2 linked regions of the Homo sapiens genome follow. The protein of the gene in region 1 purifies or fractionates together with the protein of each later gene. This does not show direct contact. Each region holds a gene or a part of one and is shown on either strand. Other genes may lie near its edges. The genes, in order: RPS6KC1 and DENND6A.

Region 1 (3,924 bases):
ACATGTACATGAACGTTAATAGCAACATTATTCATTATAGCCCCAAACTGGAAAGTCTAAGTATCTAAAAACTAGTGAGTGGATTAATGAAATGTGGACATCCAAACAGTGGAATACTAAGAAAAAGGAATGGCCTGTTGATACCTGCTACAGTGTGGATGAATCTCAGAAACATAATGATAAGTGAAAGAAGGCAGCGTCAAAAGACTACATATTTTATTATTTTACTTATATGAAATGTTCAGAAAGGGCAACTTTATAGAGACAAAAGGCAGGTCAGTGGTTGCCGAGGGCTGGGGATGGGGGTGGGGATTAACTGTAGATGGCATGAGGAAACTTTTTAGGGTAATCAAAATGTTCTAAAAGGCCGGGTGCGGTGGCTCACGCCTGTAATCCCAGCACTTTGGGAGGCCGAGACGGGCGGATCACGAGGTCAGGAGATCGAGACCATCCTGGCTAACACGGTGAAACCCTGTCTCTACTAAAAATACAAAAATTAGCCGGGCATGGTGGCGCGCGCCTGTAGTCCCAGCTACACGGGAGGCTGAGGCAGGAGAATGACGTGAACCCGGGAGGCGGAGCTTGCAGTGAGTCGAGATCGCGCCACTGCACTCCAGCCTGGGCGACAGAGCGAAACTCCGTCTCAAAAAAAAAAAAAAAAAAAATGTTCTAAAACTGGATTGTGATGCTAGTTGCACAACTCTTTAAATTTACTAAAAGTCATCAAATTGTACACTTATAAGGGATGAATTTATATAAATTATCCTTCAGTAAAGTTGTTAACACAAAAATTTGACATTATTAAACCACAAAATTTTTTTTTACTTATTTTACACATGATTCCTATTTCTGAAGAAACCAAAACTTGTTTCATTCATTATATTAAATTATTTCATTTGTGTCAACTATGCCAAAGACTAGTGATTTTGGAATACTAATCAGCTTATTCACACTTTAGGTAAAGTTTAGTCTCAATACATACATAGTTGATTAGGGGTCGAAAGATTTACTGTGCTTCCCAAATTTTCTAATCATGAAGGAAGTAACTGGCTATCTCAGAATCTAGTGCAATATCTAATTAATGTCATGGTGTACTTTTGGGGTAGGAAATTGATAGGTATAACTATCCTATTATATTACATGAGGATGAGGGAAACAAAGTAAGTTACTCAAGGCCATGTTTCCCATCAGTTGAAAAGCCATAAACTCAGTTCAGGTGTCTCTCACACCCCACAGCTAGAATGGTATTAGACATAGCTCCCTTTCAAGAAAAATGGTCACTTGGCTATTAATCAAGACTGCTTGTTACCAGGGTTGAATTTAGAAGTTGTTTCTTTTCAAATATTGGTTTTCCTTTGATTTGCCAGTTGGATTCCTGTTACTCACTAAGTCCGTCTTTTTTTAGCTCTTGCAGTTCAATCCTCTGGAACGACTTGGTGCTGGAGTTGCTGGTGTTGAAGATATCAAATCTCATCCATTTTTTACCCCTGTGGATTGGGCAGAACTGATGAGATGAACGTAATGCAGGGTTATCTTCACACATTCTGATCTTCTCTGTGACAGGCATCTCCAGCACTGAGGCACCTCTGACTCACAGTTACTTATGGAGCACCAAAGCATTTGGATAAAGACCGTTATAGGAAATGGGGGGGAAATGGCTAAAAGAGAACAATTCGTTTACAATTACAAGATATTAGCTAATTGTGCCAGGGGCTGTTATATACATATATACACAACCAAGGTGTGATCTGAATTTAATCCACATTTGGTGTTGCAGATGAGTTGTAAAGCCAACTGAAAGAGTTCCTTCAAGAAGTTCCTCTGATAGGAAGCTAGAAGTGTAGAATGAAGTTTTACTTGACAGAAGGACCTTTACATGGCAGCTAACAGTGCTTTTTGCTGACCAGGATTGGTTTATATGATTAAATTAATATTTGCTTAATAATACACTAAAAGTATATGAACAATGTCATCAATGAAACTTAAAAGCGAGAAAAAAGAATATACACATAATTTCTGACGGAAAACCTGTACCCTGATGCTGTATAATGTATGTTGAATGTGGTCCCAGATTATTTCTGTAAGAAGACACTCCATGTTGTCAGCTTTGTACTCTTTGTTGATACTGCTTATTTAGAGAAGGGTTCATATAAACACTCACTCTGTGTCTTCAACAGCATCTTTCTTTCCCCATCTTTCTATTTTCTGCACCCTCTGCTTGTTCCCTCATATTCTGTTCTTCCGACTCCTGCTAACACACATGCAACAAAAAAGGGAAGGGAGTGCTTATTTCCCTTTGTGTAAGGACTAAGAAATCATGATATCAAATAAACATGGTGAAACATTAGATCTCTTCTTCATTTAATAACCCTCCCCCCTTTTTTTCCTTGAAGAAATGCGTCTGTTCCTTTCCTTGTGAAATATTATCAGTTTCTACCATTGCTTCTCATGCTTGACTTTGTTTTACTTTTTGGCTTGGTATACTAAGAAGCAAAGGATCTCATCTAAATGGAATTGAATGGCAGTCCTAGTTTGTTACTTATGGTGATGAGATTTTCAGATTTGAACTAATCTATTTGACGTGATTTAGAAAGAATGTAAGTATTCACACATCTCCAAACATTTGTATTTGTTACTTCTTTTTGTTGCTAAGGTAGCTCCTGTAGTTATGCATTGTTGCAAAAATTTACAAATGTTTTAAAAGTGTTAACATCTGTTTTTTTTTAAACGTTAGCCAAAGAAGAAGTCACTATTTCCAAGTTAGAAACCACCAGAAATAATTGAAATTTTTGATATGTTCTAATCTTCTTTGCATTTTTGAGATCTGTGTGAGAGCCCAACCCCACTCCAGGAGCATCTGTACAGCTTCCATCTGCCATCGACCAGGTCCTCTCATCAAATTAAATGGAACAGAAAATGCTCTAGTGAAACAAAGGAAATGTGCAAGCATTTTTCCTTTTTCTATTATTCTATTTCCCTTTTTCCTTTTTGGCCCCCTTATAATCCAAACCCCAGCTGAAAGGCTGCAACAACACCAGGTTGGGGAGCAGGTCACCAGGATCATAGTTCAGTCAAAATGACATCACTCCCTGGAACTAGATTTCAACTCACTAGTCCCCTGGCCTCATAACAGGAACTTATGCAGGTGAGACACAAGAATGACTTCCTGTGTAGGACTAGTAGGAAATCTGCAAGTACTTAGAGCTGGCCATTACAGAACTTCCTTCCAGAAGTGCCCTGTGACATGAAAGTAGGACTTCACAACTAAGGTGAAGATCCCTGCCCTACCACATGATTTGAGTCTCTTGGATTCAAAGGACATTAATGTCAACAGATGGTTGCCATGTCAGTCTGTTGACACAATTCCATTGCTTCAGTTTCTCCCCTTTTCTCTCTATATGTTTGGTTGGAGCTTGTGCCTAATGTAAATACATCATTCATAATTAGAATGGACATTAATTATTTTAGTAATAAACACAGGATAAATAGCTTTGGGGTGATGAACCAGAGTCTGTTTTTATTTTATGGTGTGTACATATTTTAAGCTGTACTTCTGTGAATGGTACTGATTTTTGTGGTTGTTTTTTTTTTATATTTTGTTTGTTTAAGCAGAAGAGTGGAATATGGGGTCAAAATCATAAAAGAAGTTGCCATGAGTGTTTCTCATTTGATTTTTTTATCGTAAAATATACATAACATAAAATTCACCATTTTATCCGTTTTAAAATATACACTTCAGTAGTGGCATTAAGTACATTTTTGTGCGACATCACCACTATCCATCTCCAGGACTTTTTCGGCACCTCAAATGGAAACTCTGTACCCACTAAACAATAACTCCTCCCCATTCCACACTCCAGCTCCTAGCAACCACTATTCCACTTTCTGTCTCTATGAATTTGACTGTGACTGTTCTAAGTACTT
Region 2 (3,924 bases), on another chromosome or scaffold:
TCAGCCACCGTGCCCTGCCAGGGTCTCTTTTTTGATTCAAAGTTTTATGAAAATCAGGAGACTAAGTTAGCAACAGTATGGGCATGAATTTGGGGCTGTAGCTACACATGAGTGTCAGTCTTTCTAGAAACTTGGAAATTATAGTGAAAAAGCCATAGATTCTACCATGATAGCATCTAACAGTAGGGGACTGTTACCATTTTTTTTAATGTAAATAGTATAGTATAGCAAATATAAAATAAAGATTGTCTTTATAGTGAACTCACTTTTTTTTTTTTGAGATGGAGTTTCGCTCTTGTTGCCCAGGCTGGAGTGCAATAGCACAATCTCGGCTCACTGCAGCCTCCACCTCCCCAGGTTCAAGCAATTCTTCTGTCTCAGCCTTCCAAGTAGCTGGGATTACAGGTGCCCGCCACCACACCCAGCTAATTTTTGTATTTTTTAGTAGAGACGGGGTTTCACCATGATGGCCAGGCTGGTCCTGAGCCCCTGACCTCAGGTAATCCACCCACCTCACCTTCCCAAAGTGTTGGGATTACAGACGTGAGCCACGGTGCCCAGCCGTGAACTCACATTTTCACAGTATGGGATGAACAGTATTCCCTAAGCTAAGAACTCTTATGTTTTGCTCCGGTAAAGATTATTTTCACAGGATATTGCACAATGAACTTCACATTAAATTACTTCAAGGTGAAGTTCTAGTTTTTTAAATATCAAGTATAAATGTATATTTACATAGCAATTGAATCTGATAGTTATCCATTGTTTTATATTCCAACACTAGAATACAGATTCTCATTATTTCCTCTTTTAAGGGTGTACAACAGAAACGTCCTTCTGAGGCTCAAAGTGTTATTCTTCGACGCTATTTTTTGGAACTGACACAAAGTTTCATCATTCCATTAGTAAGTTAATAAATAAATTTTTGCATAATTTAATGATTTGGTGAAGGGTATATAAATGTTTTTCCCGCCCTCCAAAACCATATCTTAAGTTGTGTGTTTTGCCAGCCTGGTATATTTAGTGATTAAAAATAAACCCCTTTGCAAGAGACCTGGATTATCTGTTCTAGTGTTAACTGTTCAACTTTGGTAAGTCACTCCCTCTCTCTGACCCTCAATTTTCTCACCTGTGAAATATGGCTGATTCCACTTTCCTAAGTACCTTTTCAAGACTGTTGTGAATCTTAAATGATATACTTTATATGAAATGTTATGTAGTTACTACATTTTTCACCTTAAAAGAAGATTATAGTAGAGCTTCTTTCTGATACTTATCTTGAATACAATTTGATATAATGTCTATGAGGCTGTAGCTCTATGATAACAGGGACTATATCTGTCTTGCTTGTTATTAATTCGTCAGACTGGCATATGGTAGCACTCAAATATTTATGGAATAAATGACTAGACAATGTGGTTATTGTAAGAAATTCAGAAGGATGTCATATTAAAGTATAGGGAGTACCATGATGTGGCCCTGCTCTGGAAACTGCATCATAGAGAAACTTTTTGCAGTTATTAATATAAAGTAATATATCTATGAACATTATATAGGGCATCCTGGAGATCTTTGCTGTTATATTTTAGAAAGAAATATTATTTCTTGGTCTTTGGGTGTCAAGTTATTTATTCCATTAAATCTATTTGTTTGAATAAATAAACTTTACTGTAGTGCTTATGAGCATGGACTAGGCTGGGCACAGTGGCTCAGGCCTGCCACTTTGGGAGGCGAAGGTAAGAGGATTGCTTAAGGCCAGGACTTTGAGACTACAGTAGGCTGTGATTGCACGACTGCACTCCATCCTGGGCAACAGCAAGACTCTCTTAAAAAAAAAAAGAGCATGGACTGGGCGTGGTGGCTCACGTCTGTAATCCCAGCACTTTTGGAGACTGAGGCGGGCAGATCACGAGGTCAGGAGATCGAGACCATCCTGGCTAACACGGTGAAACCCCGTCTCGTCTCTACTAAAAATACAAAAAATTGGCCAGGCATGGTGGCACGCACCTGTAGTCCCAGCTGCTCTAGAGGCTGAGGCAGGAGAATCACTTGAACCCGGGAGGCGGAGGTTGCAGTGAGCTGAGATCGCGCCACTGCACTCAGCCTGGGCGAAAGAGTGAGACTCCGTCTCAAAAAAAAAAAAAAAAAGGCCGGGCGCGGTGGCTCACGCCTGTAATCCCAGCACTTTGGGAGGCCGAGGCGGGCGGATCACGAGGTCAGGAGATCAAGACCATCCTGGCTAACACGGTGAAACCCCGTCTCTACTAAAAATACAAAAAATTAGCCGGGCGTGGTGGTGGGCGCCTGTAATCCCAGCTACTCGGGAGGCTGAGGCAGGAGAATGGCATGAACCCAAGAGGCAGAGCTTGCAGTGAGCCGGGATAGCGCCACTGCAGTCCAGCTTGGGCGAAAGAGTGAGACTCCGTCTCAAAAAAAAAAAAAAAAAAAAAAAAGAGAGCAGAGACCAAAGTCAAGTAGACCTCATTTCAAGTCTAAATTGTATTACCTTGGTCAGGTTATTTAGCCTTTTGAAGAAGCCTCAGTTTCCTAATAATACCTACCACATAGGATCATTCCAAGGATTACAAGAGATCATGCATGTAAAATGTTGAGTGCATTATCTGGCCTATAGTTGCTCAGTAAGGTTAACTATTATCGTTAAAAAATGGACCGCGTTGTTGGGCGCGGTAGTTCACGCCTGTAATCCCAGCACTTTGGGAGGCTGAGGCAGGTGGATCATGAGGTCAGGAGTTCGAGACCAGCCTGACCAACATGGTAAAACCCCATCTCTACTAAAAATACAAAATTAGCCAGGCGTGGTGGCGCACGCCTGTAATCCCAGCTGCTTGGGAGACTGAGGCGGGAGAATCGCTTGAACCCGGGGGGCAGAGGTTGTAGTGAGCCGAGATCATGCCATTGCACTCCAGCCTGCGCAACAGAACAAGGCTCTGTCTCAAAAAAGAAAAAATGTAGTCCCCTTGGTTTATCTAAGATTTAGTTGAATTTTTATTTGAAATCTGACTTCCCAAGTCAGTCTAAATTTAGCTATATCTCTTGTGGGGAGTGATGGAGTTGTTGCTGTCCATTGAAAGGGCATATGATTAAAAACTTAAAAGACCCATTCCTTTTAAGTAGGTCTGTTTAAATATTTTTGAAGACACTCCTTTTATTAACTTTTTTCTTGGTTTTAGGAAAGATATGTGGCAAGCTTGATGCCTTTGCAGAAAAGTATTTCCCCATGGAAGGTATGAATATATTCAAATCTATTTGGGTCCTCTAACTGTAATTAACTTCTGTGAACATATCCACTCCTAATTTCTAAATATTATATGTCCTGTTTTCTAGAGTCCACCTCAATTAAGACAGTTTCTTCCAGAAGAATTTATGAAAACACTTGAGAAAACAGGACCTCAGCTAACCTCTAGAATAAAAGGCGATTGGATTGGACTTTACCGGTTAGTCTTTTTTCCCTGTTTTACACCCATGTGTCGTGCTTTATTTAAAAGCAAAACAAAAAGCTAAACTTAAGCTTATTCTTTTTAAAAAATTCTACTAAAGTTTGACATGGTTCTCTGACTAGGAAAGGTATTGAGGAAAGGAAATAAGTTATAATCAAACTTTACTTTTTTAAAATGTATTTTTATAGGCATTTCCTAAAGTCTCCAAATTTTGATGGCTGGTTTAAGACCCGGAGGAAGGAAATGACCCAAAAATTGGAGGCACTCCATCTAGAAGCTCTTTGTGAAGAGGTTCGAAAACTGTGTGTTTGTGTAATGATTAACAACTGTTGAAAATAAAGATAATTATGCTTAGAAGTTGAAGATTGTACCCTTTATCCACTCTTTATAAATAGTAATGATGACTAACTTTTCTAGATCATGTGCTATGTGCCAAGGACATTATAGGGGCTTTATATAGATAATC

What was found.
Region 2: the proteins of RPS6KC1 (region 1) and DENND6A purify together in Homo sapiens (affinity purification with mass spectrometry; 2 studies listed by BioGRID and IntAct, with this or other methods). This does not show direct contact.

The regions. Positions count from the first base shown.
Region 1 is NC_000001.11:213,271,119-213,275,042, forward strand, and holds the end of RPS6KC1 (ribosomal protein S6 kinase delta-1), read left to right. Parts: intron 1-1,405; coding exon 1,406-1,516; 3' UTR 1,517-3,656; downstream 3,657-3,924. UniProt on the Homo sapiens protein: May be involved in transmitting sphingosine-1 phosphate (SPP)-mediated signaling into the cell. Plays a role in the recruitment of PRDX3 to early endosomes.
Region 2 is NC_000003.12:57,630,246-57,634,169, reverse strand, and holds part of DENND6A (protein DENND6A), read left to right. Parts: intron 1-815; coding exon 816-905; intron 906-3,191; coding exon 3,192-3,245; intron 3,246-3,345; coding exon 3,346-3,455; intron 3,456-3,646; coding exon 3,647-3,749; intron 3,750-3,924.